Linked DNA regions of Homo sapiens: all the other regions are linked to region 1. The links come from fine-mapping of genetic effects on gene expression. A gene starts in region 1. Each other region holds a variant in brackets. All regions are shown on one strand. Distances are between the middles of the regions.

The links.
Region 2: its variant is fine-mapped to the expression of ANXA1 in whole blood (INTERVAL, PIP 0.95).
Region 3: its variant is fine-mapped to the expression of ANXA1 in whole blood (TOPMed, PIP above 0.99).

What each region holds. Positions count from the first base shown.
Region 1 is chr9:73,145,647-73,156,819 of GRCh38, forward strand. It overlaps ANXA1 (annexin A1), which reads left to right and starts at 6,219. Exons shown (of 13, transcript NM_000700.3): 1 at 6,219-6,278. RefSeq lists a cis regulatory region at 3,927-4,177 and a silencer at 8,207-8,501.
Region 2 is chr9:73,247,261-73,258,433 of GRCh38, forward strand. LOC105376082 (a long non-coding RNA gene) reads right to left here. Exons shown (of 5, transcript XR_929931.2): 2 at 417-549. Among named protein-coding and RNA genes, the nearest start is that of ANXA1, 100 kb to the left of the region's middle. The variant T/C (reference allele first, on the strand shown) is at 5,800.
Region 3 is chr9:73,284,417-73,295,589 of GRCh38, forward strand. The region is part of intron 1 of LOC101927281 (a long non-coding RNA gene); the gene reads left to right. Among named protein-coding and RNA genes, the nearest start is that of ANXA1, 140 kb to the left of the region's middle. The variant T/C (reference allele first, on the strand shown) is at 5,816.

The DNA of each region.
Region 1 (11,173 bases):
TTCTCCCTATGTCTTCACATCATCTTCCCTTCGAAAATTCTTGTCAGTGCTGTTTCTTAGTCTCTGCCCCTCAGCATTACTGTATTTGTCCCACTAGAGGACTAGGGGTTCATCTCTTTCTTCCTATTAAATCTTCAACCAGGAAAGGAAGATATGAGGAGATCCTCAGTGCAAGGAATGGCCCTCATCTCAAAGGCTAGTAACTCTTTCCTTGTACTGGTTCACCTGTTCTCCCAAATATTCTGGAAGCTTATTTCATCAACTATGCTGTTTTTTGTTAGTTTGTTTGTTTCCTGTGGCTTCACTCTTCTTCTATAGCTCCTCATGGTCTACCTGAGAACACGTTCAGATTTCCCAATGCTACCTCACAATTAATATCTTGTTACTCTCTTTCGGTTTTCCACCATTTAGTGAAAGCGTGTATGTCTAAGAGTTGCCTACACTTAACTCCATATCCTCAGCTCCTATGGTCTTCTCAAACCAATTTCTCTCCACTGTGTTTCCAAAACCCCTTATCCTTAAGGCCACCACCTCTTTCTTAATTTCCAAGTACAAGAGCCATTTCTAAATGACTTCCTTTTGGAGCCTCTTTCTAAGTGACCATTTTGTATCCTTTTGCAATGTTTTTCACAGCTTTCTTCCTGACACTTTCACCTGCAGTTGCGTCATCAGGATTACATTATCTTGGCTTGCTTTCTGCCCCTCTTAATTATCTTATTCTGTGTGTTTTTTATTTTAATAGTTGCTGCCAAATGACTTTCAAACCAACAAGCAAACAAGCACCAGCAATATATGAGTGTATCCTTTTCTAATACCATTTATTGCTGGTAAAGGTGTTACAGAAAATTTGAGGTCATCACCACCCTGATGGGTATATATCCATATACTGTCATTTCTTTAAACAGTATTTCCCTCACCAGTGTAAATTTGAACAACTTTTACTGTTTGTTTGGCAATTTGGATTTGCATATCTGCTGACTCGGAGGCATTTGACTGTACTCAGGTTTCATCCATTTTTGTTGTTTGGATTGCTTGCTTTACAATTGATAAGAGCTCCTGGTACACTGTAGATAGTAACACTTTGTTAGTGCATGTAAGGAAATATGAAGTTTTTGTAAGAATCTACTGATTTTGCTTATTTTTTCCACTTGAGGATTTTTATTTGCCTATATTAAAAACACCTCTCATTTCTTTTATAATAACAGGTTTTAAGCCACAGATTAGTCTCCCACCACAGAGATTATAAATGTTATTCTCAGAATAGATTATCCTGAATAGTGATCTTTTGCAAGTTACTTTTAACAAAGTATAACCATATTTGACTTGTAAATGAGAAAATGAGATTTAGGATTTATCAAGTTTCTCTTTGAAAGAAAATTTCATTTTTCTATTGGATAATAATCTATTTATGATAAAGTTAACCAAAATCACCCCAACCAATGCAAAGCAAACATTTATTGTGGCTTGGTCTGGAAAACTTTCATTACAAATTTAGCTACAAGATATTTACAGAATATCTTGTAAAGTTTATTGTTTGTTTTATATATTTACTCCCATTTTAATTCCAGATCCATCCAGATCCATGTTTTTTTATTTTTTAAGATAGTATAAAGATCCAGTTTTTGTTTAACTATGCTAGTTTAAAGAATTGTTTTAAATCACTTTTTAAACCTATTGAGTTAAAATAGAAATTGAAAAAAAGTCATTATTAAATTTAAGGATATTAATCTTTGGTTCGTGTCATAAATCCATGGAGTTGGCAATGATTATGTGAAGACTTGCTGTATTTTTTGTGTTCTGATTACATAAGAATTTTTGAATTATTATATTAGAAATTATATGGTCCTGGTATATCTTAGAAAGTATATAATCAAATGAAGTTCCTTTTTTTCATAATAGACTCTAGTTTTTAGAGAAATTTTAGGTTTACAGAAAAATTGAGCAGAAAGTACAGAGAATTCTCATATACTCAATTTCCCGCTGCTCTTAGTTTCCCCTGTTACTAATATTTTGGATTGATGTGGTCCATTTGTTATATTGGTGAACCAATATTGATACATTATTATTAGCTAATTGCCATAGTTTACATTAGGGCCTACTCTTCATGTTATACATTTCTATGTGTTTTGCCAAATCCATAATGTATGCATACACCATTACAGTATCATACAGAATAGTTTCACTTCCCTAAAAATCTCTTTTTTTTTTTTTTTTTTTTGAGACATAGTCTCGCTCTGTTGCCTAGGCTGGAATACAATGGGGCAATCTTGGCTCACTTTAACCTCTGCTTCCCAGGTTCAAGTGATTCTCCTGCCTCAGCCTTCTGAGTAGCTGGGACCACAGGCGTGCACCACCACGCCCAGCTAATTTTTTTTTGTATTTTAGTAGATGGGGTTTCATCATGTTGGTCAGGCTGGTCTTGAACTCCTGACCTGATGATCCGCCGCCTCGGCCTCCCAAAGTGCTGGGATTACAGGTGTGAGCCACCATGCCCAGCCCACTTCCCTAAAAGTCTCTTATTTATTACTCCTCCCTGCCACCAACTCCTGGCAACCATTGATCTTTTTACTTTCTCTATAGTTTGCCTTCTCCAGAATGCATCTCATTGGAATGAAACAGACATAGCCTTTTCATACTGTCTTCCTTTACTTAGCGATACTCATTTATGATTCCTTCATTTCTTTTCCTGGTTTAAAAGCATTTCTTTTTATCATTGAGTAATAGTCCATTACATAAACGTACTATAGTCCATGTATTCACTTACCTCTTGAAAAATATCTCAGCTGCTTCCAATTTCTGGTAATTATGAATAAACTGCTATAAGCATACATGTGCAGGTTTTTGTGTAAACATGTTTCCTAACTCATTTGGGTAAATATCTAGGAGCACAATTGCTGGATTGCATTGTAAGACTCTGTTTATCTTTGTAAGAAACTGCCAGACTATTTTAAAACAGCTGGAACCTAGAAAGCAGAGTTTGACCTTTTGACCTTAACACATATCTTCATTTTCCTTCTGCAAAACTTCTTGAAAATTATTGAAGTAAAATTTGTTATTATAGCGAATGTGACAAGGTCTTATTCTCTTACTTTCGAATAATATAGAGAGGGATATGGATACTATACTCAGGGATTAAACAAAATAACTTGTGCAATACAAAATTACTAATCCTAGCATGATCCTGATGTTGGAAGTATACTAGTTGAATCACCAAGTCATTCGCTGACTTTTCCTAAGTCACACAGTAATAGATACTAAGCCACCACCAAATTTGAGTTTTTATCTTCTCTAAGATTTTCCACCCACAAAAGGAAATATAGAGAGGCAGGGAGGTAAGATCTTTTTCCCTAAGTGAAGTCCAACAAAGGTACCTCCCTTTGGCTCTAGCTACCCACATGACTACTTCATTAACCTGAAAGAGTAAAATTTGAAAAAAAATTCTGTCTTTAATTCATGTGAATAACTGAGGAATAATAATAATAATAATCTCAATAACTCAGTGTGTGTGTGATAATTATTTGCCATGTTTAGAGGCAAAGGGAAAACATTTAGAATGTTAGCCCTCAAAATGCTTTGACCTGGGGACACATGAGAAACACACACTAAAATAATGATTTTTGTTGGCTGTGGATAGGGGGTATGAGGAAGCTGTGGGGAGATTTTGGAATATCTGTGAAATGCTGTTCTTGATCATTCAGAATATACTCTTTCTTCCATATAACAAGTAATGCTTAGATAGAGTTAAATGTAAAGGATGAGGGGACAGCTTACTAAGATCAGATATTTTGCAAGAGTCTTATGCACAATGAGATGTATGTGAGAGACTCCATATTTCCTCTCCTTGTTTTGTTTTGTTTCCTCTTCACTATCAGATTCTAAACCAAATGAGTGAAAATAAACATGCTGTGAAAAACGTAACATATAGAGATTGATTTTAACTGTCTTTTTTCTTTCCTTCTCTTTCTTTATTTTCTCTGTTTGTAAAGTAAGTGGAGCCGATGAATCATCATCTTCTAGAAACAGCAAGAGTGGTGAGTCATTTCTCTGGAGTATGTGGCATTTCACCCACAGAAAGCATTTAACCCATGATTATCCCCTCACTGTTAATGATAACATATTTTACTTGTTCTTTTATTTCCATAAATCTACTCGACATTATTATTATGCGGAGAAAAAGATTCTGACAGATTATTCACAGCAATATACCTACATGATTAGTGGCTTTCTTTTTGTGTTATGTTTGGGAGTTTCACTTGCCTTTAGTGTTACAGCTGGAAGTTAATTTTGGAAAAACATTCTTTTCACTTTTTTTTTCTTAATTCTGCTACAATTATCATATTTATTGTTGCTATTTTAGGTTTGCCTATGTATTACAAATCCAAACATATAAAATAATTCCATTCAGTTTATGGCACTGGTAATAGCAGCAACAAAGCAAAATGAGACTATACATGTTTTCTAGGTTGTTATATTTTATAAAAAGTAAGTGGAATTTTTTCTTCATTTCACAAGAGCATCACTGTGCAGGAATGTTCCAATAGTTCCATTACCAGAGTTAGGAATACAAACGCAAATTAAAGAAAAAAAGAAAACCAGATTTTGTATAATCATCTTATTCCTTCTCACCTGATGACATAAATATGGTATTAGAAAGTTAGTCTACATCTGTCAAGATCAATTTGCAATAATATCAATTAACTTAACTTGTTAGCAGGTAACTAATTAATTTTCAACTTACACATATGATAGTAAAAACATATATTGACATTTTCTTAAATATTTAGATTAGATGATCATCCTACTTCAGGATATGTTGACTTCATTGATATTGGCATCGAGCACTTAGAATGTATTATAAAATACTGCCAATCTTTAGAAAGTATTTTCATTAACTTCCTAAACTTCATGTTTTTTATGTGAAATATCTATGAGGAAAAGAGGAAAAAGAACAAACCACTAAATGCAGCATAAATTGAGCCATAATGCTGTGAGATTTTACACCTGTGCACTTTAATGGAAACATCATATAATACTTTGTAGGGTTTAAAGAAGAATGAAAATGAACCACTATGGAAGTTACCAGAACCAATTTTCCTCCATTGGGTGGGAAATTTCTTATGGAATGTGTTCTGTAATAGTTGCTGCTCCATTAATCCTTTCATTTTATAGGTCTAGTTCCTTGTTTTGGTGTTCAACTAGTCTACAATGTCAAAGATGTGTATCAAAATGTATATATAACTGATCTATATTACAGTTTATATATATAGTTCTATGTAACTGACTCTATTTAAAAGAATTAATGTAGATAGGCCTTCTGATGTCAATGCTTTTATTGAATGTCATAATGATCAAATTTTTGGCATTACCTTTGTTCAAAATTTTGAGCCAATCTGGAACTTTATTACTTCTATATTTCTTATTTATAACAACAAGCTATATCTAGGAACAAAAGTCGTTTATTTTTTAAGGCAAGAAAAATATAAATAGAAAATTATTCGGCACTGTGTAATGTTAAAATTTACAAATATATGTTATTTCTCCATTGTCACAAGAATTCTAGTGGGTAGACAACTTAGATAATGCTCCTATATACAAAAGTAAAAACAGCTAGGCATGGTGGCTCACGCCTGTGATTCCAACTCTTAGGGAGACAGAGGCAGGAGGATAGCCTGAGCCCAGGAGTTTGAGACCTGCCTGGGCAATATAACGAGACCCCATTCTCCACAAAAAGCGGGGGAAAAAGACAACAAAACAAAAGTAAAAACAGGTTCAGAAAAATTAAGTATGTCCCTAAAGTCACAGAATAATAAGTGATGGAGGTGGAATTCAAATGTAATATTTTGTTTGTTGGTTTGTTTAGTTTTGAAGGTAACATACTTTTTAGTCTACAACCTATTTAACTACAAAAGTGTGCCAATCACTGGTATTAGGATTGGGGCAGATGTATACTCTGAAAATAAAAGTGCAAAATAAATATCCCATCTGGAAATAAAAGTGCAAAATAAAGAGGGAGGAAAAATCAGCCCTTCCATTTCTTTTCCTTTGTAATGCCAGTTGAATTGGTTTAGTGAGTAGTTTTGCAAGACTTGTTTCACTTTGTTTTTGGACATAGCTGAGCCATGTACTTCAAACAGAAGGCAGCCAATTACTAACTTCTGGTTGCTAGGTGTGGCTTCCTTTAAAATCCTATAAAATCAGAAGCCCAAGTCTCCACTGCCAGTGTGAAATCTTCAGAGAAGAATTTCTCTTTAGTTCTTTGCAAGAAGGTAGAGATAAAGGTAAGTCTTGGTTTTCCTTTTAGTTAGTTTTGGTTGTTTTGAAAACTTTTCTCATCACTATGTTAAATGTTACTGCTTCTACAGGATTTATGGTTAGTTGCATTTAACATGATAAGTCATTCATAAATCTTTCTGTAGAATTACATTGGATATTTATATTTTAGGAATCACAAATTACAATATTTTTGTTCTACTTAGTTAACAAATACAAGTAAAAATAAGATAAGTTTGCTTAATACTGGCTCATTGTACTCTTGGTAAGTTACCATGAGAAAGAAGGGAAGAATGTGCTTTCCCTCTGGTAGCCTTAAAAGAATGTGTTTTTCCTTTCCTTCCCCTTGAAATATTTCTTCCCAAGAGCTGTGTGTTTTACAGAGAAATCGTGATGGGGGCTGCTTTTTGGGGGCAAGAACAAAAGTGATAGGAGTGGGCTGCAGGGAACTGTTTCAAAATAGTAGGACTTTCATAATTTATTTTCTTCTTTTGTAAGGAAAACAAGATAGATTCAGACCTCAAAGTGCTAATCATGCTCTTTGTAATAAACATTTAAAAATATATGTTATATTTGCTTATGCTATTTAAAATAAGAAGGTCCGCTTATTACTTTTTTCATTTAAAGAGGGTGTGGCCACATTCCTTTTCTTGTAGGCTCTGTGTCATATACAGTCTTTTCAAGTGCTGGCTGGAAAACCTAAAAAGAAGGGAAATACTTTCTGGGTAGTGTCAGATACATTATCCTAGGGGAATGTCAGTGAGGCCCTCCAACAGCTATTCCACTTGATTGTTGCATGAGCTAATGGCCATAAAACTCCTTAGAAAAGCACAAAGCAAAACTAAAGAAGAGTATTTACTAGTGTTGGATATATTTGTAAAAGTGAGATTACAAATCATGTATCTGGCTATTTTTTTCTTAAACATGTTCCTTCAAGAATTTTTCTGTTCGTTCATTTTAAATATTTATTAAATGTTCTGATTTCTTATGTTCACTGCTAGCTAATTAACAAGGATGGAATTTTTCTTGCCTTGGTTATATCTAAAAGATTGTAAAAACTTTGAGAAAGCAATGTTGCCCTCTTTCCACAGGAGTATTTTGGTAGCTGTAAGAGAATGCACATTGCAAATGACTCAAATGTGGTAAAATGTTGGTTTCATAATTCTGAAATGGCCTCTTCCCCAAAAGTGACAGTAACACCCTAGCTCCAGGCTCAACCACATCCAGCACATAGCCAACATTTAACAGATGTTGACAAAATAGTTAATAATAATATTATTAAGGAACCAGCCAGAGTTTCATGCTTATTAAATACTTTTTCAACCAGAAGGTCTGCAAAGGTTGATTTCTGAATATGACGTTAGCTCTCTCTAGACCTATTAATTTACGACATTTCAAATCAGAGGTAAACCAGCAGACCTATTATTTTTCAATGATAAACTATAAACAGTTTTTTGAAGTCAACTATTTCCTTTTCCTTTAAAATTGGACAGAATTTCATCAGGAAGCTCAGAACAATCCAATTTATATAATGCCTTCCTTCATTATGCTAATTTTCTTCATCTTCATCTACTTGAAGTAATATTTAAGATTGGCACTTCAGAGCTGTAAATGGATCTTAGATGATAATTACTTCAACATTCTTATTTTATAAACGAAGACCCTCTGGAGAAGCTAAATGTTTTTCTTGAGGTCAGATCGCCAGATAATCAAGAACCAGTATACTTCAATTTGTATTTTATATCCTATAGTTGTGGGTAGAAAATGTTCATTAAATTAGTGTAGATATGTTTTTTAAAATATTAGCAATGATACATGATATTCATTCAATAATACTTATTAACATCCTAAATTCCAGGCATTTTGCTAGGGATTGGAAGTACATACATAATGAATATTATTATTTGTATGTTAGCACGGGCCTCATGGCCTGCTCCTGGGGAATATAAACAAGCCAATGGAAAGTGATAATACAGAAAGGTGGGGCTGGTGTAGGGGTGAAGTCAGGATGCTTTGGGAGAGCATGGAAGGTCACCGAATCCAGTGCTGAGGAACTAATGAAGGGTTTCTGAAGAACGTGATGAGATCAATGCTGATGAGTCACTTAGAAGTAGCAATTAGTTAGGCAAAGGGAAGTGAATGTGGAGGAGGAACAAGCATTCCAGGCAAGAAGAACACCCTATCGAAAAGCCTGGAAGCAAAACATTAGTGAGGCTACCTTTCATAAATTGCTTTCTGTAAGTCATGCCATTGTGTAGTCTTAATTGCTTTCTCTCACCAGGGAAGGTGTGGGAAGGACTTGTGAAATACATATTCGAGGAAAAACTATGCACAAGGCCGTGCATTTAAAAATAAACTCCCTAAGGCTGGGGTGAAACCTGCTACGGTCTGCGCAAGTTGACTGTTAATGAATTTGATTCTCAGGTGTGAGTGATTAAAAGAACACTGATCATGTCATTTTCTTTTTGGTCACTAATTCCCTCCCTCCCTTCTCTTTCTTTTCTTTTTTCTTTTCTTTTCTTTTTCTTTCTTTCTTCCCGACAGAGTCTTGTTATGTCGCCCAGGATGGAGTGTAGTGGTACAATCTCGGCTCACTGCAGCCTCCGCCTCTTCCTGGGTTCAAGTGATTCTCCTGCCTCAGCCTTCTGAGTAGATGGGACTACAGGTGCACACCACCATGCCTGGCTGATTTTTGTACTTTTGGTAGAGACGGGGTTTCGCCATGCTGGCCAGGCTGGTCTTGAACTCCTGGCCTCAAGTAATCTGCCCACCTTGGCCTCCTAAATTGCTGGGATTGCAGGTGTGAGCCACCATGCACAGCCAAAATATATAACACTTTGGAATCAAAAGGGATGGATTTATGTCTCCATTCTTGCCACTACTAGCAGGAAGACTGCTTGAAAATAGCACTCAGTTTTCCCAGATAGAAACTGAGGATAATGATTAAAGGCTATTATTCCAAGCAAGGGTTAGTCATTGCTGTTACTATCATTGCAAAACTCTGATAGTTCTAGATTGTAACCAGGAAGATACAATCAACCACAAAACTCAGCTTCCTCTGTCACAAATTCTAGATAGAGGTAGCCTTTCATGAGGCTGAGAGATGGAAAAATGAAGCGGGGGGACTCTCTTAGGACACATAAATATGCAAAAAAATTGCTACGCTTTAGAAAGCTATACATTCAAATCATAGATAAGCTGACATTAGTAGGCAGTGCATGTTCACAAAAAGACCATTAATTAGAAGAAATGTGAAATATTGTTAATTTCCTTATAGATTTGCCTATGTATAAATGGCCAATTTCACCGTCAATGAGCTCATGCTAAGTACTGAAATAAACTTAGTTTTAGAGCTTATCTTTGGTTAGTTGAAATCTGTATTGAGTTAGTTGAAATCTATAAGTTGATAGAACAGGCTCTTTAAAATCTATTGCAAGCTTTATACACTACAAACAAAAAGATAGAAAAAAGAAAACCTTTCATGAACTCATTGGCTTAGGCAGGTTTTCATGCAGAGTGTAGGTATTGAAGAGTCAGAACGGCTTAAGGATAGAATTTGGCCAATATATAAAAAAATATATATTTGGTATTTGTTAGTTGTATTATAATTATTCAGAAGTTCAGTTAATACGTGCAGTTGGCTTTGAGCCCTTAACCAGCTGTATGTGATAAAATCTGTTTCCTTTAGAGCAATTTCTTATATCCTGCCTTGATGCTCCTGTCTTTAATCTTTGCTAAGAGCTGGTGGTGAATTTGGCTGAATTCAGATTCCGTTTTTCTCTAATTGATTTCTTGAAGAAAATTCTCTATTGGTTGCTTTTCTTTCCTAGATTATGCTTTTAGTCTATCCAAATACTTCAGGCTAGAATGTAGGAACTTAGAAGATACAAATCACAAAGCTGTCTCCTCTAGGGATGCTCTCTCTTTCAAATAAGTGACTTAAACAACTTATTTTTGTTATCTTGTGTTATGTAATTAATATACCTTTTCCTGGGCTTTCTCTGGCTTTTTTTTTAAATGGACATTATTCAAGTATTTTTTAGAAGTAAAAAAAAAACAGTACAGTAAAGTTTTTATAACGTTTATTTTGAAGTTGTCAGAGACACCTTTAATATTAGACTGGACAATATCTTTAGTCTTTCTTTTGCTTTCTTTTGAAGTTTTTATTTGCTAATTGAAAAGAATGGAATAATAATAATAATAATAATAAATAAATAATAATAATAAATAATATAAATAAATAAATAAATAAATAAAATAAATAAATAATAAAAACATGTTTTTATAAGTGATGGAGTAGTACTTTGCCAAGTGATGAATTTTAACACTCATTTTGATGATTCTTCCTTATCAAAGCCTTGGATGAAATGATGAAAATGGAAATTTTGAGTGCCTGAAGCTGCTAGAATTGCTTTTAAAGTATTGGGTGTGCCAATTAAGAAGGTGGAATATGAAACTCCATGTGGCAACCGCAATTGCATGAAACTAGACTGTAATGGGAACTAAAACCTTGTGCAAAATTGCGGGTTGTTACTTTATCAGGAAGCAATTTTAAGTCTATCAATTATATTTAGGAAACAGGCTGCTTTAAATGAATGGAAAAAGTATTGGTTCTTCTCACAGATGACAGAATAGTAATAAGAGCAATCCCATGCGAATTAAGTGGGGATGATTTCTGCTTTGGATATTATTTTCTTCATGCATTCAGTGTTATTACTTGCAACTCCAGTTACTTTTTAGCAGGTGAAAATGGAAAGAGTTTGTCTGAACATGCTGTTGAGGAATCAGTTTATGGAATCAGTTTATGCCTCATGAGTCATTTATCTTCATATCAAGAATTTAAAACTGCCAAGATTGTCCTCCCAACCTCTCTCACAAACATTCATGAGAGTAGTCTCTAGAG
Region 2 (11,173 bases), 100 kb after region 1:
TGGAACTGAGGAGCAGAAAAGTTTAAATAACTTGGCTACGGACACCTAAGTTCTCCAATCAGAACTTGGTCTCAAGTCACCTGGACTTCAAATCTTCCCTCCACTCCTTCTTGGTTAGTCTTTTAGCATGATCTTGCACTGTGAACTCTGAAGACAGAAAACAGTTAACTCAGAGTGAATGTGAATATCTACCTCTGGGGTCAGTTTAACTGCTAGTGTGGTATTTTTTCGTTTTGCTCTTGTTCCCTGCACTGTAATTTTTGTGTCCTGCTTCTCTCTCATCCCCTTTCTCTCTTACGCATTTCCTTTTCCTTTGGCTTTTTGTGATAATGTTATATACTTGCTAGAGTGAACAGATTTATTTCCATCATTGCAGTGTGATAATTAAAATATTTTAAACAAGAAATTAACCTCACCATTGCCTGCACTTTTTAAAAGTATTTTTTTCTGATTAAAGCAGGAAATTCAGGCACAAAAGGAGAGGATACTCATGCTTGTCATCTTCACATTTCAGGTATTTGGGTGTTATTGCTCCAAGGGGTGTTCCTGCTGAAAGACACAGAATGTATATGTCACCTCTATCCATCAGGTCAAAAGATCTTGCCAACAACAATATTCACATTAATGCCCAGTTGGTCTCCCTGTTTACAAGAGGCGTTCTTGTGAAAGGCCCTACTTTTTAGATTAAATATTTCCTGTGCCAAAACATTCTGCATCAGTGAGTTAAAACAGACTATAGTCCAAAAGGATATATCCTGGCTGTGAGCACAGATTTGGTATAATTTGAGTTTTTTCTTGTTTTATTTTTAAAACAAAATATATCGGGCTTATGATTATTAGAGAAACTCAGATTTAAGGCTCAGGAAAATGTAAATGACAGCTAAAGATAATTCCAAAATCTTCTCTGTTTTCTCCAATACCTTGACTAATAGATTGTCTCATAAAACTTTATTTTTCTTTTCTTTTAGTCTCCAAAGGTCTATTTTTCTGCAGAAAGCTAATGAATCCTGACAGAGTTTCTGAAAAGCTAAACATATATTTTTTGTGCAAATTAGAAAATTTGGCACAAAGCCATACATTTCCAGTTTCACAGGGTAGAGCTGTGCATTAAAACCAGCAGGCTCGGTGTGGTGGCAGGCTCACACCTGTAATCCCAGCACTTTGGGAGGCCGAGGTGGGCAGATCCCTTGAGCCCAGGAGTTTGAGACCAGCCTGGGCAACATGGTGAAACCCCATCTCTAGAGAAGACACAAAAAATTTGCCGGGTGTGGTGGCATGTGCCTGTAGATCCAGCTACTCTAGAGGCTGAGGTGGGAGGATTACTCGAGCCCAGGAGGAGGAGGTTGCAATGAGATGGCACCACTGCACTAGGCCTGGGCAACAAAGCAAACAAACATCTCAACAAGCAAACTAACAAAAAACTCAAACCACCAGCTCCCTTTTTACAAAACGATGTGTGTGTGTGTGTGTGTGTGTCTGTGTGTGTGTAAACTCCTTGTTTAGTAGTTGTGATGAAGTAGAGAGGGAATTGCAAACATCTGACAAATAGGTTTCATTGAGGTACATCTTTGTATATATTATCTCATCTAAATCTCAAAACAACCTATTTAGTTTGGAATTTTTGTTTCTATTATACTGACAAAGAAGATAAGGCACAGAGAGGTAAAACAATTTGTCTAAAGAAACATACTCAGTAAATGATTTAATCCCATCTTAGTTGACTGAAAAACCAAAAACTCTCCATCCTAACTTCCTGCTTTCCTGGGAAACACTTTATAAGCCCAGGAGGCAGTTATTCTTTTTACTCCTCACAAGAACGATGTAGAACAAATGAATTTTGACTCTTAAACTATAGCATATATGTAGCATTTAAAAATTCATTTCTTGAGCTTCAAAGCAATCACAAGGCTAAAAATTTATAGTGGCAGCTGACATTTCCTTGTAACGGACATGATAATAAATATTTTTAGGGCCATATAAGTTTGTATTACATACTCTTGCTTGCTTTTGTTTATTTGTTTTTATTTCACAACCCTTTATTAAAATAAAAAAATTCTTAGCTGAGTGACCATACAAAAACAGCCCTTAGACAATATTTGGCCCACAGTCATAGTTTGATGACCCTTGCTCTGTATCTTGATTTTGATGGTGTTTATATGACTACAGAAGTTTGTCAAATTCCAAAATTTTACACTTAAAATTGTAAATTTCAAGGAACATAAATTACCTTTTAATGAAATAAATGGGGGACCATCATAAACAGTATGTTCTTTCACCACAAACATAGAAATTTTAAGTAGCCTTACATCTATTGATTAAATAGAATTTGTAATTAAATAAATTCCCATAAAAATATTCATATCCAAAGTAGCTCATCAGAAATTTTATCAAACATTTAATAAACTAAAATTGCCAATATCACACAAACTCTTTCATGGAATAGTGGAATGAAGATACTTTCCAAGTCATTTCATGAGGCCAATATAACTCTGACACCAAATCTAGGAAAGGATATTATATGCAAAGAAAATTAAAGACTAATATTCATTGTGAGCATAGACACAAAAGCCCATAACCAAACATTGTCAAATTGGATTTGGCAATATCTAGAGATGTTAAATAATCCTGACCATGTGGCAGTGGCAATCCCAGGAATGGCAAGTTGGTTTATTATATGGAAATCACAGTGGAACTCACACATTAACACATTAAAGAAGAAAAATTATATTTAATTAAGTAGATTCTGGAAAAGCACTTAAAAATTCAGCACCTGTTCATAATAAAAACGCTCCACAAACTGGGGACAAAAGAGAACTTTTTTCTTCTAGGCAAATAAAGTCTGTGAGAAATCAACATTAAATATATTTTACTCATGAAGAAGGAATGAGCATTATATCCCAAAATAAGGAAAAGATAAAGATGTGCATTTCTACCACTTCTAGTCAACATTGTACTGGAGCTCTTAATGTAGTAAGTAAAAAAAAAAAAAAAAAGGCATACATTTAGAAAAGAATAAATAATAAAATCTCTATTTGAAGATAATATAACATATGCCTAGAAAGTTATAAGGAGGGAGCTCATGTCTTTGTGGGACTCCATGTATATGTGCATAATTAAAATTGTTTTCTATTGTTTTTTGTAAAAAAAAAGTCATAAAGAATAAAAAAGTGAACTTTGCAATGTCACAGGATGCAAAGAAAATATACAAAGATAAATTGTATTTCTAACCAACAACAATAAGCAATTGGAAAGAAAATAAAAGAGATGCTATATTTATGGATTATAAGGCTCAGTATTGTTAAAGTTATTAAAATGTAAATTCGCCACAAATCTATCTTTATATTCAACACAATCCTAACCAAAATTATATTTGGCTTTAAAAAAAGGCAATTTGCTGTGTTCAAATATATATCAAAATGAAAATGTCTTAGAACAGTTGGAGGACTTACCCTACCTGACTGCCATACATACTATACAGCTATGGAAATCAAGAGTATGACACTAGCAATATGATAGATGAATAGATCAATTGAAAACAATTGTGGATCCTGATATAGACTCACACATACAAAGTCAAATTATTTTTTGTCATGGGCTCTAAAACAATTCAACAGAAAAAGGGAAACAACTTTAGCAAATGGTGATGAATCAAGTAGATAGGAATAAAGAAAATATAGAACCTCAACCTCAATTTGACTCATACACTAAAAAAAACATCTCATATACATGAGGTATATGATATCTAAACCTAAAGGAAAGTTTAAAATATTCGAGAAAAAAATCTTCATGGGCTTAGAGTGGTAATAATATATTAGCCTTGAACAGAAAGCCCAAATAATAAAAAAAAAGCACTTTATCAAAAGCAAAATACTTTGTTCTTCAAAAAATCACCAGTAAGACTGTTTTAAAAAGCAAGTCATAGATTATGAGAAAATATTTGATATACTTATACCTGACAGAGGATGTGTAACCAGCATATAAAAAGAACTCTTAAAACTCAATAATATAAACACAGGCATCCCAACATAAAAAATAAAAATTGAGATTCTATATCTTGAGAAAATATCCTTCAGAAATGAAGGAGAAATCAACACATTCCTAGATGAAGGAAACATAAGAAAATATGTTGCCAGGAGATTTACCCTACAGGAATGGCTAAATAAAATTTCTAAAAGTATAGGAAATAACAAAAGAATAAAGCTTGTGACATCAGGAAGAAAGACCAATACAGTAAACAAAAAATATGGGTAAATACAATAGGCTCTTCTCTTGAGTGTTCTAAATTATGCTTGATGGTTGAAGCAAAAATTAAAACACCAATGTTGTTCTAAATATTTGTAGAAGAAATATCTAAGACAATTATAAATGGGGGAGAATAAAGAGATGTAAAGGGAAGTAATCTTTCTATACTTCACTAGGACTGGTAAAATGAGAACACGAGTAGACTGTGGTAAGTTACAGATATGTAACAACATAATAACTAGTGCAACCACTAAGACAGCTATACAAAGAGACACAGTCAAAACACTATAGATAAAGAAAAGGGAAATTGTAAAAAATGTTTTATATGATGATTTATATGTTTTATATGTGTTGTGGGTTTCCACAGAAAGGGAGGAAAAAGAAGACATAAATGAAAAGCAGAGAGAACAAACAGAAAACAAAAATAAAATAGCTGATTTAACTCTAAGGTATCAGTAATTATATTAAATTTAAATGGTATAAACATAGCAATCAAAAGACAGAGATTAACAGAGGGTATTTACAAATACAACCTAACTAAATGTTGCCCATAAGAAATTAACTTGAAATACAACAATATAAGCTGTTGAAAGTAAAAGGATTGAAAATATATCTTACAAAAATTTTAATAAAAGGAAAGAGAGAGTGACTATATTGATATTATATGAAGTAGACTTCGGAGAAAATAAAATTATTAAAGATAGAGAAGGAGATTAATAACAAGAAAAGTTTAAATCCATCAAAAAGACAGAAATTCTAAATGTATGTACACCAAAGACAGATCAGCAAAATAGGTGAAGCAAAAATTGATCAAACTGAAAGGATAAATAGACACATACATAGATATAGTTACAGACATGAACACTACTCTCTCAGCAATTCATGGAATAAGTAAAGAGAATTTCAACAAAGATATAGAAGGGCTCCACCAATAAAATCTAATTGACATTTATGGAACACTGTATTTTCTTTTCTTTTCTTTTTTTTTTTTTTGAGATGGACTGTCACTCTGTTGCCCTGACTAGAGTGCAGTGGTATGATCTCAGCTCATCGCAACCTCCACTTCCCGGGTTCAAGCGATTCTCCTACCTTAGTCTCCCGAGTAGCTGGGATTACAGGCACCTGCCACCACCCCTGGCTAATTTTTGTATTTTTAGTAGAGACAAGGTTTCACCATTTTGGCCAGGCTGGTCTTGAACTCCTGACCTCAGGTGATCCAACCGCCTTGGCCTCCCGAAGTGCTGGGATTACAAGCATGAGCCACCGCACCCAGCCAACTACACATTATTTTCAAATCATAACTATACCAACATAAACCATACTCTGGGTCATAAAACCAACCCCAACAACTTTAGAACAATTGAATTTATACAGAATATATTCTCTGATACAATGGAATTAAAATACAAATCAAAAACAGGAAAATTACAGAAAAGTTTCCAAACACTTGGGAACACATTTATAAATAATGCATGGGGTCAAACAAAAGTCAAGAGAATTTTAAAAATTCATTGAATTGAATGAAAATGAAAATACAATATAACAAAATTTGTGAGA[T/C]ACAGCTAAAACTGTGCTAAAAGGCGAAATTATAGCCCTAAATGCATACATGGGAAAAGAGGAAAAGTTTGAAACCAATAACCTAAGCTCCTACCTCAAGAACCTGGAAGGGAAAAAAAAATTATCCCAAAGTAAGCAGAATGAAGACAACAATAAACAACAGAAATCAATAAAATGGAAAACAGAATAGAAAAAATCAATGAAACACAGAATTAGTTCTTTGAAAAGATCAGTAAAATTGTCAAAATTTGTCATTAATAATTTTCAAAAAGAAACCTCCAAACCCACAGGGTTACATTGGAGAATTCTGTCAAATTTTTTTAAAACAACATCAATTATACACAATATCTTTCAGAAAAAAAGAAGAGTGAACACTTACTTATCTATTTTATGAAGCTATTGATGTGGTTTGGCTCTGTGTTCACACACAAATCTCACTTTTTTTTTTTTTTTGAGCTGGAGTCTCACAATGTCGCCAGGCTGGTGTGCAGTGGTGCAATCTCGTCTCACTGCAACCTCCACCTCCCCAGTTCAAGCGATTCTCCTGCCTCAACCTCCCAAGTAGCTGGGACTACAGGTGCCCACCACCACGACTGGCTAATTTTTGTATTTTTAGTAAAGATGGGGTTTCACCATGTGGGCCAGGATGGTCTCGATTTCTTGACCTCGTGATCCGCCCACCCTGGCCTCCCAAAATGCTGGGACAACAGGCATGAGCCACCACGCCTGGCCCCAAATCTCACTTTGTATTGCAATAATGCCCATGTGTCATGGTGTGGACCCAGTGGGAGGTAATTAAGTTATGGATGTGGGTTTTTCCCATGCTGTTCTTGTGATACAGTATAAGTTTCATGAAATCTGATGGTTTTATAAAGGAGAATCCCCGTGCACATGTCTCAGGTCAGCTGCCATGTAAGACATCTTTTTGCTCTTCCTTCATCTTTTGCCATGATTGTGAGGCCTCCTGAGCCATGTGGAATTGTGAGTTTATTATACCTCTTTCCTTTATAAAGCACCCAGTCTCAGGTATGCCTTTATTAATAGCATGAGGATGGACTAATACAGTAAATTGGTACTGGGTAGTGGGGAGTTGCTATAAAGATACCTGAAAATGTGGAACTGGGTAACAGGCAGAAGTTGGAACAGTTTAGAGGGCTCAGAAGAAGATAGAAAACTGTGAGTAGATTTGGAACTTCCTAGAGACGTGGAGTGCTCAGAAGACAGGAAGATGAAGGAAAGTTTGGAACTTTCTGGAGACTTGTTGAATGGCTTTGACCAAAATGTTGAGTGACGTGAACAGTAAATTCCAAGCTGAGGTGGTCTCAGATGGAGATGAGGAACTTGTTGAGAACTGGAGCAAAGGTAACTCTTGTTATGCTTTAGCAAAGAGACTGGTATCACTTTGCCCCTGCCCTAGAGATTTGTGGAACTTTGAACTTGAGAGAGATAATTTAGAGCATCTGGTGGAAGAAATTTCTAAGCAATGAAACACTCAAGATGTGACTTGTGTACTGTTAAAAGCATTCAGTTTTATGTATTCCCAAAGATATGGTTTGGAATTGGAACTTATGTTTAAAAGGAAAGCAGAGCATAAACATTCAGAAAATTTGCAGGCTGAAGACGAGAAAGAAAGGAAAACCCCATTTTCTGAGGAGAAATTCAAGCCAGCTGCAGAAATTTGCATAAGTATTGAGGAGCTAAATGCCAATTGCCAAGACAATGGGGAAAATGTCTCCAGGGCATATCAGAGGTGTTCATGGCAGCCCCTCCTATCACAGGTCTGGAAGCCTAGGAGGAAACAATGGTTTTTTGGGTTGGGCACAGAGCCTTGCTGCTTTGTGCAGTCTTGAGACTTGTTGACCTGCACCCCATCTGTGGCTAAAAGGGGCCAACATAGAGCTCAGGCCATTGCTTCAGAAGTTGCAAGCTCCATGCTTTGGTGACTTACACATGGTGTTGGGCCTGCAAATCAGAGAAGTCAACAATTGAAGTTTGAGAACCTCTGCCTGGATTTCAAAGGATGTATTGAAATGCCTGCATGTCCAGGCAGAGGGGTGCTGCAAGGGCAGAGCCCTCATGGAGAACCTCTGTTTGGGAAGTACAGAAGGGAACTGTTGGGTGCCAGCCTCTACACAGAGTCCCCACTGGGGCACTGCCTAGTGGAGCTGTGAGAAGAGGACCACCATCCTCCAGATCCCAGAATGGTAAAGCCACAGACAGCTTGCACTGTGTGCCTAGAAAAGCCACAGACACTCAATGCCAGCCTGTGAAAGCATTCAGGAAGGGGGCTGCACCCTGCAAAGCCACAGAGGCATAGCTGCCCAAGACCATGGGAACCCACCTCTTGCATCAGTGTGACCTGGATGTGAGACATGGAGTCAAAGAAGATCATTTTGGAGCTTTAAGGTTTGACTGCCCTCCTGGATTATGGACTTGCACGGGGCCTGTAGCCCCTTTGTTTTGGCCAATTTCTCCCATTTGGAATGGGTGTATTTACCCAATGCCTTAACCTCCATTCTATCTAGGAAGTAATTAACTTGCTTTTGATTTTACAGTCTCATAGGTGGAAGGGACTTGCCTTGTCTCAGATGAGACTTGGACTTTTGGGTTAATGCTGGAACGAGTTGAGACTTTGGGGGACTGTTGGAAGGCATGATTGGTTTTGAAATGTGAGGACATGAGATTTGGGAGCGGCTGGGAGCAGAATGATATGGTTTGCCTCTGTGTCCACACCCAAATCTCACCTTGAATTATAATAATCCTCATGTGTCATGGGAGGGACCTGGAGGGAGGTAATTGAATTGTGGGGGCAGGTTTTCCTGTTCTTGTGATAGTGAAAAAGTCTCACAAGATCTGATGGTTTTATAAAGGGGAGTACCCCTGCAAATGTCTCTTGCCTCCCACCATGTAAGACAAAGCTCTTTACTCTTCCTTCATTTTCTGCCATGATTGTGAGGCCTCCCCCGCCACATGGAACTGCTAGTTCATTAAACCTCTTTCCTTTATAAATTATCCAATCTCGGGTATGTCTTTGTTAGTAGCATGAGAATGGACTAATACAGCCATTATTAGTCTGATTCTAAAACTAAGCAAATACAGTATGAAATAAAATTACAGGCAGATATCCTTCCTGAATATAAACATAAAATTCCTAACAAAATATTAGTAAATAGATTTCAACAACATATAAAAAGATTATATAATATGACCAAGTGGGGTTGTTAAAGGAATATAAAGCTGATTCAATAAGAGGCTCAAGAACAATCTTATTATCACATCAATCAATGTACTAATAGCACTTGACAAAATTCAATACCCATGTTATAAAAATGCACAGAAAAATTGGAATAGAGTTAAAATTCCTCAACTTGATAAAGAACATATACAGAAAACCCACAGCTAATATTATACTTGATAGTGAAAAATCAAATGCATTTCTCCTATGACCAGAGCAAGACAAGCATGTCTGCTCTCACCACTCTTATTTAACATCAAGGTGAAAGTTTTAAACAGGCAAGAGAAGTAAATACAGAAAAGAAGTAAGTACAACTGTCTCTATTTGCAGATGACATATTTGTCTACATAGAAAATTCCAAGGAAGTCTATAAAAGATCTTTCAGATCTAATACATGAATTCATCGAGTTTGCAGGACACGAGATAAACATACATTAATCAATTATATGTATATATACTGGCCATAACCACGTAGGCACCAACATTAATACTACAATTCCATTTATAATTACTGAAAAAAATACTTAGGAGTAAATCTAACCAAACATCTATAGTGCTAGTCTGCTGAAAATAACACAGTGATGATGGAAGAAATCAAAGAGATAAGTAAATGAATAGATAAATCATGTTCACGGATTGGAAGACTTAATGTAATAAAGCTGTCAATATTTCCTAATTTGATGTACAGGTTTAAAATACTTATCAAAATTTCAGGGAGATAATTTTGTAAATATAGACAGAACTATCTTAAAATTTATATGAAACTAGAATAGCTAAAAACAATTTTGAAAAAGAAGAATAAATTGAAAAAATATATCAAAATTATGTATCTACAGTAATCAAAATTTTGTGGTATTGCTGGAGGGATACACACATAGTTCAATAGAACACAGTAAAGAATCCAAAATAGACCCACACATATATATACAACATCTGTATGATTTTTGACTAAGTTGCAAAAGCAGTTCAGTACAGGAAATATAGCCTTTTCAACAGCTAGTACTGGAGCAATTGAATATCTACAGGCAAAAATAAAATTATAAACCTGGACCTAACTATTATATCTTATGCAAAAATTAGCTAAATAGGCCACTACTAAAATGTAAAATTTAAACCATAGAACTCTTAAGGGGAAAAAACAACAGAGGAAAATTTTTACAATTTGGGGCCAAATAATTTATAGATTTGACACTAAAAGTAGGATTCACTTAAAAACTTGCTAAGTTTAACTATATCAAATTTGAATGATTTTGATCTGTAAAAGACCCAGTTAATATAATAGAAAGACAAGCTATAGAATGGGAGAAAATATTTGCAAAGGACTAGTGTCTAGAATACACAAAGAACACTCAAAACTCACAATTAAAAAGCAAAGAATCCAATTAGAATGTGGGTAACAGATATAAAGGGACATTTCAAATAGGAGTGCATACAGATGGCAAACAAATATGTGAAAAGATGGTCAACATCACTAGTTATTAAGGAAATGTCAATTAAAACCATAATGAGATATCACTAAATACCTATCAACATGGCTAAAATTATGAACAGTGACAACAAATGCTGGAGAGAAGGCAAAGGAACTGGATCACTTCTATATTGGTGGTAGAAATGTAAATGGTATTCTCACTCAAAAAAACTGTTTGGCAGTTTTTAAAAAAAAAATCTAAACATGAAAGTACCATGTAACCCAGCAATACCACTCCTGGGCATTTATCCCAGAAAAATGAACACATACTCACACCAAAAACTTTGTGTGAGTATTTATAACAGCGTTATTTGTGGTAGCTCATATAGTAGGAACAACTCAAATGTCCATAATAGATGAATGATTAAATTAACTATAGTGCCTTCATACCATGAAATACTACTCAGCAATATAAAGGAATGTACTATTGATACATTCCGTCCATACAACCATATGGACGAATCTCCAGAAAATTATGCTAATTGAAGAAGTCAAAAACAAAAGGTTGCATGTTGTGTGATCCTATTTGTACAACATTCTTGAAATAACAGAAGTACAGTAATGAAGAGGCGATTAGTGGCCTACAGGGTTTAAGGAGGACGTTGGGGAGAAAAAGAAGTGGATGTGGCCATAATGGGAAATGTCACAAACCTTTGTAGTGATGGAAATTC
Region 3 (11,173 bases), 140 kb after region 1:
TGTTTTCACCTCACAGGGGGATACAAAATAAGATGAGTAGAGCAAAAAGAAAGTAAAATAACCAGTCAGCCAAATATAGCGAGAGAAACAGTGCCTTGGACTCACAGCATGTGGACTCAATGAGAGACGTGCTCCTGAGGGAGCGGTAAAGCAAGCCTTCTGTTCACTGGTGATGCGAACCTACGAGCGCGAACTGCATTGCCAGAGTCCTTTACTGCTCTTTATGCAACTAGGTTAATCCTTTTTGTTGCTTCTTTCTTTCTTTCCGGAAAAGAACTCAGAGAGGATTTTACTGTAGGTAATGTCTGGGAACAGTTCTTTCTTTTATGTGCACTGTGGTGCTTGCTGCTATAAAGCCAGTGACTTAGCCAACTTTGAAGTCATCAGTTCTGATTTGTCACTCAGTAGGTTCAGTTTATGGGGGCAAAGAACCAAGCCATCCCATTCTGGGGAGGTATAGGATGCATTTCTTATGAGCTGCTAAAGGCAGAGGTTCATTTGTTCCATGGTCTCAACTGCTCTAAATAACAGATTAGTGAGATGTTGCACCTGACATTTAACCCTGGGCATTAATTAAAAGTGGCCTGCTGTGATATTTGGGCAGGTGTGGGTAGAAGTAGGCAGTAGTAATACTGCTAGAGAGCAAGCTGTGAAAATCTTTTAACAGCATTTTCACATATTTATGTTGTAGAAATGTATTTTAATGACACTGACATAATTTTAGGGCAAAAGAAATAGCGTATCTCAAAAAATTCAGTTGTATTTTGCATTCAGTTGATGAGGAGGTAAGACACGGTACAGAGTGTTTCACTATTATTCAGCTTAATCACAATGTGTAGTCAATTTACAATATATACCAAGCCCTGTGTTAGGCAGTCTATATGCTTTCTTTTATTGTCATGTTGGAACAACGTGTATTTAACCTTTAGTAAATTTTATTGAGCACTTATTTTGTGCCAGTTGCTGGAGATGTAGCTGTGTACACAATAGATGAGGTTTCTCATGTCAAGGAAGTTAAATTCTGGTCAGCCACAGACAATATTCAAAAGTAGTGTGAACTTTGGGAGGCCTAGGCGGGTGGATCACGAGGTCAGGGGATTGAGACCATCCTGGCCAACATGGTGAAATCCCATCTGTACTAAAAATACAAGAATTAGCTGGGCCTGGTAGTGAGCGCATATAGTCCCAGCTACTCAGGAGGCTGAGGCAGGAGCATCACTTGAACCCGAGAGGTGAAGGTTGCAGTGAGCCAAGATCACGCCATTGCACTCCAGCCTGGGTGACAGAACGAGACTCCATCTCAAAAACAAACAAACAAAAAAATACAAAAAAATTAGCTGGGCCTGGGGGTGTGTGCCTGCAGTCCCAAATACTCAGGAGGTTGAGGTAGGAGAATTGCTTGATCCTGGGAGACGGAGTGCAGCCGAGACCGCGACACTGCACTTCAACCTGCCTGGGCAACAGAGTGAGACTCCCCATCTTGAAAAAAATAAATAAATAAAAATAAAAAAGAAGAGTGGAAGTTCCACAAAGACAGGGGTTTGTGTCTGTTATATCTACGGTTTAACTTCATCAACTAGAACAGTACCTGACAAAAAATATATACAACAACACTGTTTGTTAAATGCCTGGAAGGTAAGAGATGAAGATTAGAGACACTGAATTCTTTGTCCATGGATCCCTATGCCTATAAAATACATAAGCCTTCTAGATATTATTTGTTTTTTCATTTTCTACTTTTACATTTGTTTTCAATTGAGGAAAATTCTAACTTAAAAGCTCAAACCTTTCCCCACATGTTCTCTTGTCTGAATATTGAGGGGATTTTGTTGTTGTTGTTGTCACTCTTGTTAGAGTTGTTATTTTGAGTATAGCTTTCTTACATTTCAATTGAAACCATTATTCACAGAAAGTTAACAAAATGTTGATATCAAAAACAGTTTCTAAAGTACTGCCTATATCACACACATTCTTTTAGGTATAGAAGATACAAAAATGGGCTGGGTGCGGTGGCTCATGCCTGTAATCCCAGCACTTCGCAAGGCCGAGATGGGTGTATCACCTGAGGTCAGGAGTTCAAGACCATCCTGGCCAATATGGTGAAACCCCGTCTCTACTAAAAATACAAAAATTAGCTGGGCGTGGTGGCGAACGCCTGTAGTCCCAGCTACTGGGGAAGTTGAGGCAGGAGAATCGCTTGAACCCAGGAGGCAGAGGTTGCAGTGAGCTGAGATCGTACCACTGCACTCCAGCCTGGGCGACAGAGCAAGACTCTGTCTCGAAAAACAAAAACAACAACAACAAAAAACAAGGCAATAAACAGGTAAACAAATAAGCATGTGATAAGCAACACATTAATAAGTTAAATGAAGAAAACAAAATATGAAAATGTGATAGTGAACAGGGAGAAGTTGATGGTCAGGGAGGGCCTCTCTCTCTAAGTGGTAACATTTGAATTGAGACCTGAATGATGAAAAATACGTAGCTATGAAAGGAAATTATAGAGAATTGTACATGAAGAGAAAATAATGACATATGGGAAAGAGTTTGGCTTCTAAGTTGAAAGAAATATTGCCATTTTGGATAGGACATGGTAACTCAGATGGTATGTGTAGGGAAATAGAGTAAGCAAGGTAGGTGTGAGAGGAGTTTGAATTTTAATTTAATTGCAATAGGAAGGATAGACTTGTCTTTGTCCTGGTGAATGAAAAGATCCAAATTGCACTTGGAAAAAATAACTCTGGATGTCATTGGAATGGACAGAGTGTTGAACATAATGAGAATGACCAGGTGAAAACTTGTTTTTATATTTTGGGCAAGAGTTTATGGTTGAAATAATGAGATATAGTCAGAGAAGCGTTATGTTTTAAAGACAAAAGAGACAGAATTATTGGTGGGTGGGAGAAAAGTAGAGTGTGAAGAAAATAATCAAGGATGATTCTAAGTTTGAATAACTGGTTGAGTAACTGGTTGGGAGGTGACTCAATGGCAGTGAAGAAGACTTGAGAGCAGTGGTATATAAATGTACACAAGGTGGGTGAGAAGAGTAAATACTGTTTGGCTTAGTGTGTTTTCAATGATATTAATGCAAAATGAATATGGTGATATATGGAGATGGGTATGAATCTGGAGCAAAGAGAGATATTAGAGATAAAATTTTCAAAGTCCTCAAAGTGTAGTATTTGAAACCATGAGACTGAATTAGACAACTTAGGAGAAAGTTGTAGGTGGAGAAGAAGGCAGAAAAAGAGATCTCATGGGTGTTTCAATATTTTAAAATCTGGTGCACAGCCAGGTGTGGTGGTGTGCACCTGTAGTCTCAGCTACTAGTGAGGCTGATGTGGGAGGATCACTTGAGCCCAGGAGGTTGAGGCTACAGTGAGTCATAAGGATGCCACTGCACTCCAGCCTGGGTGACAGAATGAGACCCTGTCTATAAACAAATAAAATAAGCAAACAAATAAACAAACAAATAAATACCTGGTGCAAAAGTCAAGAATCTAGCAACTGAAATTGGGAGGTGTCTAGGAATATAAGGTAAAAACCTAACAATATTTAGAAAAAGAAAGTATAATAATAAAAATAGTGCATTAAAGATGTCAGCAGGATTTTTCCATTTTAACTTAAGGAAAAATATGTGGTTAGGTAGGTTAGGGTAATTGGTAAAGAAAAAAAGGAGATATTGGGTAGATTTGCCTTATGAGATTTAGTTATTGCCTGAAGGTCAGTTATAGAATTATGAGAGATTTGAGGAGAGGAGAGAGTATGAAATAATCATAATAAAGAGTGTGAATTACCAAAGATTTATTGTAGGACTGTAAAATATTGGGTTGTCCATTTGAGATTTTCAGCTATAAATTTTAAGGTGACCAGTCAGCAGAATTGTTCAGTTTTCTAGGGTTATATTTAGTATCTTGAGTACAGATGCAGAGTAAGATTTACATAATTTAATTTGAGTTGGGAATTTTTCAAATATGTACAGTAAGAAAAAGAAAGGCAAGGAGGTTGTGTGTGTTTGCAAGGAAATGGATATAATGCTAAACCATGGAGCTGGTGCAGATAAGAAGGGAAGTACAAACGTGAACAGGGTAATGGATATTGAAGAAGTGATCAGTGGATTTTAATTCTCACAAAGATAGTTTTTAAAGTAGCAATATTAGAGTAAGTGATCTGAAAGAATAAAAAGTAATAGGTTGTTTAAAGTCCATGTTTATAGCTAATGTGTGGTATTGATGAATTCTAGGTCTAATTTTTGATCATGTGAGTGGATAGTTAAGGTGGAATGGAGGAAAAGGATCAATAGAGATAAGAATATCAAATAACTTGAAATTCAGGGTGTGGCAATTATGACAGGAGTAATGGAATATTTGATGAATTACGTTGTGGGGGAATGACTGGGAGTTTCAAGGAGGAAAAAATAGGAGAGGTAAAGGATGGTAAAAATATGATATACATATAAATATGCCCGCACATACACATAAATATGATGCATACACCAAAGAAACTGAAATCGTTGAAGGCTGAAGGAGAGAAATAGTTTAGAAGTTGCAATGGTGGATGAATGCCTAGAGAAAGTCAGTTTAATGCCTTCTGCCTGGTACAATACTTAGTACCCCCTTTTATTTTAAGCATCCCAGTGTTAAATGGTCACTGCAATAAAATGATATTTCTATTATCTCCCTGTTTTATATGGGGTATAAGTAAGGAAAAATTAATACTCTGAAAGAGTTTTTAAAGCTATTTTTCTCAGTGGACGGTCATGTTTCTAATAGAACCAGAAGAGGAGGAAACTATTTAGAAGACAGTTTGCAAATATATGCGTACTTGTAGGGGGCTAGTTTGAGAGCTTTATAGATAGCCAAGGTTCTTGGGAGTAAGAGAAGAAATGACTGCTGGGGTCATATTAGGGGATTCACAGAATGAGGTGAAGGGCATCTGTGAGCCTTAGATCTTTCACAGTGACCAGTCCTATACCACAGAGCATATGGAGATTGAATACCTCAGGGTCAGATGGGCGGTCTCACAAAAAAAAAATGTAGATTCTGTTGCAAATGAAATTATGCAGTGATTGAAGATGCAATATTTTGGTGGCCAGTCATGCTTTAAAGAAGGGGCTACCTCACAGGAGCAATGGACTGGACAGAGACCTAATTTCTATTACTTCAAATCACAATGTAGTACATAGCTTAACCCCATCATTGAATTATCCTCTTGATTCATTCACTCATTGATTCATTTATTCAATAAAACATCATTTATGGATTGCTATGTTAACAGTCATGGCAGAATCTGTCTATCTAAACCTAAAGAGTATAAATTCTGGCTGGGTGTGATGGCTCACACCTGTAATCCCAGCACTTTGGGAGGCTGAGGTGGGTGGATCCCTGAGGTCAGGAGTTCGAGACCAGCCTGGCCAACATGGTGAAACCCCATCTCTACTAAAACTACAAAAATTAGCCAGGCGTGGTGGCAGGCACCTGTAGTCCCAGCTACTTGGGAGGCTGAGGCAGGAGAATCACTTGCACTTGGGAGGTGGAGGTTGCAGTGAACCAAGACTGCACCACCGCACTCCAGCCTGGGCGATAAGAGCAAAACTCCATCTCAAAAAAACAAAACGAAACGAAACAAAACAGTATAAATTCTACAAGAGGAAGCTCAGAAGATGAAATCTAACTACAATAAAATTTGAGAGATAAATACCGTAAAGCATATTAGTTGGTATTATTAACATCATCATATTAATGACTGCTATTTACTGAATGCTCATATAGTGTAGGAACTGTCCAAACACTAAAGCCCTGTTTATTGAGTGCCA[T/C]GGGGGCAGATATTCATTACCCACCTTTTGGGACTGACTGGTTGATTAGTAAGTGCTTGGGGTCACTCACTTGGCACACACTTAAAACACAAAGTGCTCTGTTCAAAAATGGGTTGCTTTTACCAACAGAAAAGTCTTTAGGAGATAACGGCCTTTAGTTGGGCCTTAGAATATAGCTACATTCAAGATGTAAGTGGGGAAACACGAGTCAATGTGGAGGTGATTTTTGGAAGGCATTTCTATGAAACAATGAGATAATTATTTTGGCTAGATTATAAGCTGGTGAAAGGCATGGGTGAGAAATAATACTCAAAAGACATGTCATGCCTGAAGCCATGCCATATATGCATTGAACATATAAATATCCGCTAAAAAACAAGGAAAAAGAAAGAAATCATAAATTGTGCAGCAATAGAACATTTTCAGAAATCCTAATCCATGTCACCTTCCTCTCTCCGCCGACCATAGCTGCTATTTCTACCTTTTGCCATTCCCCAAATTCAAGCAGGTGGCTTGATCTTTGTTTACAAAATCTTAAGTCTTATGTGGAATAAGGAGAGGATTTGGGAAATAGACAATGTGATTCCATCAAAGTCATAAAAGGACAAGGATTTTTCCTAGTCAGAAATAGAGGGAGGAGAGGCAGGGAGAAGAGGCGTATGCAAATGACTGACAGCTGTGGCAGGAGGTCCAGAAGCTACCTGTGAGGAAGAGCCAAATGTGGCCAAACAAATAAATTAACAGTGATGGGATATCTGGACCTAAAAGAATATGATGGCTTTGAGGTTGGATATTGTGATAGGGTGATAAAAGACTCGAAGCCTAAGTGTCCTTTACCCTCTATAACCCCAAGTAACTTTGATAGAGACCTTGAATAGGGGTAGACAGAAGTATTAGGCTGGTGCAAAAGCAATTGCAGTTTTTGCCATTAAAAGTAATGTAGAAGTAACTAAAAGCAATGGCAAAAACCGCGATTACTTTTGTGCCAACCTAATACTAGTAGATGGAGTGGTAATCAAAGTCAAGAAAGACAAAGTTTCTCACATGTCTAGTATGATGGGAAGAAACTTGAACATAACATTAATCTATTAAAAATCAAGTTATAGAAAATAAAGCCATAGTTTTTAAATATCAAAATTTGTTGGCTGATTAGTGTCAGCTGTTTCAAAATATTCAGGCTGTATTTATCAGGCTAGGCTAGCCTAAGATGGGGCAAGAAAAAACAAAAAACAAAAAACAAATCTCAGTGCCTTAACCCAATACACATGTATCTTTCTGCCTGCTTAGAGTCTGATATGGTTCAGCAGCCCTTCTTTATCTTGTGGAAAAATGAAACACTCTAAGGTTACTATTGAGAAAAAAGAGGTAGGTAGACAAAGCACACTAGTTTCTAATTGCTCCAGCCTGGAAGACACATTGTTGTCTTGCAGTAGTTAGATAGTTTTAAATTAAATAGTAGAGGGGAAGGGGCAGTGAGAAATACAGAATAGCGCATAGATATTTGGTTGGCACCAACCATCTGTGACCCAGAGACCCCAGCAGTTGGACAAAGGAGAAATCTTGTTTCAGCTTCTGCATTGCAAATACTTCACTTCTTCGAGATAAGTGCTATTTTCCTTCCTGTGGCAGAGGGCTTTTTGAATCCATGGTTCTTGCTTTCTGGACTCTCAGAATATTCCATGAAGTCCATTTGTATGTTCAAATGATGCTTTAATTCTTCTTCCCCCTCATTTTCTGCCTTTCTCCCCCATAAAAGTTACAAAACTAATGAAACAGTTAATTGTGTGACATAAAGAAAAATTCATCAATTGCATTTCAAAATTTGTGTTAAAATTGAAAATCTGGGGTTATTTAATTATTGCTCTAATAATTCAATAGCATACTGTTTTAAGACTATTTTTTGGGCCAATAATTGAATTGAATTGCAGCAAATCTTTATCAGTTTGATGTCTGTAAATTTCTTCTACTAAAAAAAAGTCTTTGCAGTGATTGTACTAATATGGCATAAGGGTGGCATTTAAGATTGTCCCTTGAGGAGTAAAGAAAGAACAGACCATTTCAGACACTTTAAAACATAGGATATTCTCTTGGTGTCTGCAATTTATGCTCACACACTGCAAGCCATCCTCTACTACCATGGACATGTGCAAAAAACAAAAATGTCATGGGTCCCTGTAAATGCTAGATTATCTCTGTCTTGAGAATTCCATCTTATTAAACTGATTTGACATTGGATTAAAACAACTCACCAAACAGTGTGTTATAACCAGAGGCAAGAGGGCATTATAGGATTAACATTTGGTCCTAAGAGAGGTTAAGTTTCCAGCTGATTTGTCAGTGACTCAATTCAATGATCTCTACTGAGGTCTTTTTTTTTTTTTGAGAGGTCTTTTTTTTTTCTTGCTCTGTCACCCAGGCTGGAGTGCAGTGGTGCGATCTCGGCTCACTGCAAGCTCTGCCTCCTGGGTTCAGGCCATTCTCCTGCCTCAGCCTCCCGAGTAGCTGAGACTACAGGCGCCCACCACCACGTCTGGCTAATTATTTGTATTTTTAGTAGAGACGGGGTTTCACCGTGTTAGCCAGGATGGTCTCGATCTCCTGACCTCGTTATTCGCCCGCCTTGACCTCCCAAAGTGCTGGGATTACAGGCGTGAGCCTCCTGCCCGCCCCCCCCTTTTTTTTTTCTTTAATTATAACCTAGATCCTGATTCTAGCAAATAATATAGGGAAAATATGTATGTATGATTTGCATGATTTGTTGATTTTGTAGCAAAACTTTTCCCCAAAATGCAGATCTATGTAAATAAGCCTCTACATTCTGCTTTTAATGTGCTATTATTTCAGACTTAAAGTATAAAGAAAAATAAGAGATGAAAGGAGAGATAAAACAAAAAAAGGAATAAATGAATAAATAAATGAAAGAAAAATGAGAAAAGAAAGACTGTACATTGCCATACATTTTTTTCTTCACTGATGATGCAAGTTATTGCCTTATTCTTGGTTTAAAAAAAATCTTCAGGTGGACTCTACTAAATGATTGTCATTTATCACATCAGAGAACTTGGCACATAGGTTTAGATAGTTTATTGTGTTGTATGCTGCTGATAAATTTACAAACACAGCAACTGTCACCCTCTCTCTCAAATTCATTTTCCATATGCTGAGTGGTTTTAAAAAAATATTTGGCCTGTACAAGTTTTTCCTGGCTAAATTGAGCTTGTTTGAATATTAAATGTTTTAAGAATCAGAAAGAATAAGATATTTATAAATGTACTCTGAGATATCAGCAAATTTGTTCAGATGAGAAGAATCATTCTTTGACAACACAGAATTATTACACCCTTTTGTACAGCAAAGCTATTGAGGAGTTGAAGAATGGATGTTAAGTGCAGCAATGCCTAAAACTGGGATATTGGCCCAGGATTTTTATTCTTTTGCCACTTACAGATGCCAGCAAGCTTATCTGCTTTAATATTCTTCAGCATTTAATTAATCTGAAGAGTAGCATGAAAATAACTTTTTTCCAGATCAGTTTGCCATCTGACCAATAGTTTATATTACACAGTTGGGATTTCCCATTAAACAGACCTTTACCTGTTGCCTGGCTTGCTCTGACGTTGCTAAGGGTATTATTCTTTCAGCTTATGAATGATAGACTATACTTTCCTATCACTGAGGACTATACTTTTTCAATATCATTTTAGTAACTCCATTCATTTATGTTATAGGTCAGTCTTCTTTGAGATCATTTCACCGGCAGATAGGGAAAGTTAGAATTGTTCTTTTATAAAAGAATTTTATAACTTAGGACTTTTTTTTCCATTCCATCTAATACTGTTACATTTTGAAGAAAATAAAAGATTTTAAATAATAGTTTCCTATTTCTACTCTCTACTGGAACCCATCACAGTGTTTGAAAATATTGAATTTTGTTGTTATTCTGCTAATAACACTCTGAAGTTCCAACTTGGTGGGTCAAGTGAACTCCATGAAATATGCTAAACACTGTGTGGACATCTTCCTTCATATGTAGCTGCCAAGTTATTAATATTTTACACTTTAAAAGAAAGGAAGTATTTCTTTCTGACCCTATCTTAGTTTTCAACAGGTATTTTATGATGGATTTAAGGTAGAGATATGAAAGTTACATTGCCGTAACCAATGGCTTCATTTTGGTCTCTCTAGTTTTTGTTATTGTATTAAGATTCTGTGGTTTGACTGTATTCTTCTAACTTCTGTATTCTTTCTTAAATATTTATTTCTGCCAAGGGCTACATTTCTCTGAATTGTGAAATTTTTGAGCCATGTTTCAACATCACTTATATATGTCAGAATCTCAAATCAGTTCATTTTCTGGATGTTCGTGGTGCTAATATGAATTTAAAAAAAGAAAAGGAAAGCAGATATAGGGAACCTACAATTGAATATTATATTCAGAGCTTTCTTTTTTTTTCTTTTAAATTATAATATGAATAACAAAGAAAGCATGCATTTGGCATCTGTAAATGATCACTTTATTAATCAATATTAAAAACATTTTAAACATTTCTGAATCTGATATTTTTCCAAAGTAAATTTAGAGACTTGTATCCCTTAAGTAGTTTTCCTTAAGTAGTTTCAAGTACTAAAGAATTCGGCTTTTGGAAATGTAATACATGGAAAGAACAAAGACATGGGGAGAGAAAGACTTGGTTTTAAATCTTAATTCCATAATGTATTATTTTATAGTCTGAAAACATTATCTCTTTTGAGTCTCCCAGTTTCCCAGTCCTGGTTGAGGTATAGTGATAATCATACATATTTCTCTGGGTTATTAGAGGTTTAAATTAGAAAATATATAAGTTCTCAGTAATTGTTAGTTTTTCCCTCACTCTATTCCTCCTGTTTCAGATCTGTTTTATGTAATAATTGTCCATTTAATATCTTAGCTGTAGGCCAGGGGTTACAGAGGTATTCTGGTAAATGTTTAACAACTATTTCTTCAGAGAAAGAAAATCCTGATTTATAGTGCTTATTAGTTTCTTTGGGGGTGGGAGGAACCAACATGACCAACTAGAAGCTGTCAATATGATGTCATGAGGGAAGAGTTGGGAAGAGATGCACACAATCCCTTCTTGCAGGCTGGCAGGACAGGGCACTAGCACACCACTAATGTTTCACATATAAAGCTGATTCCTCTATTCTTTCTCCACAGTCTTTCTATAGTTAACTAAAAAGAGGGAAAATGGAAAAGAATTAGTTCAGCAAGTGACCGCTTAAACAAAAATAATCAAGTGGAGATGTCTTGTGAGTTATTTATAGGTTCTAAATTCAAGATGGTAGAAAGAGCTGAAAATTTGGATGGTGAGTCCTGACTTC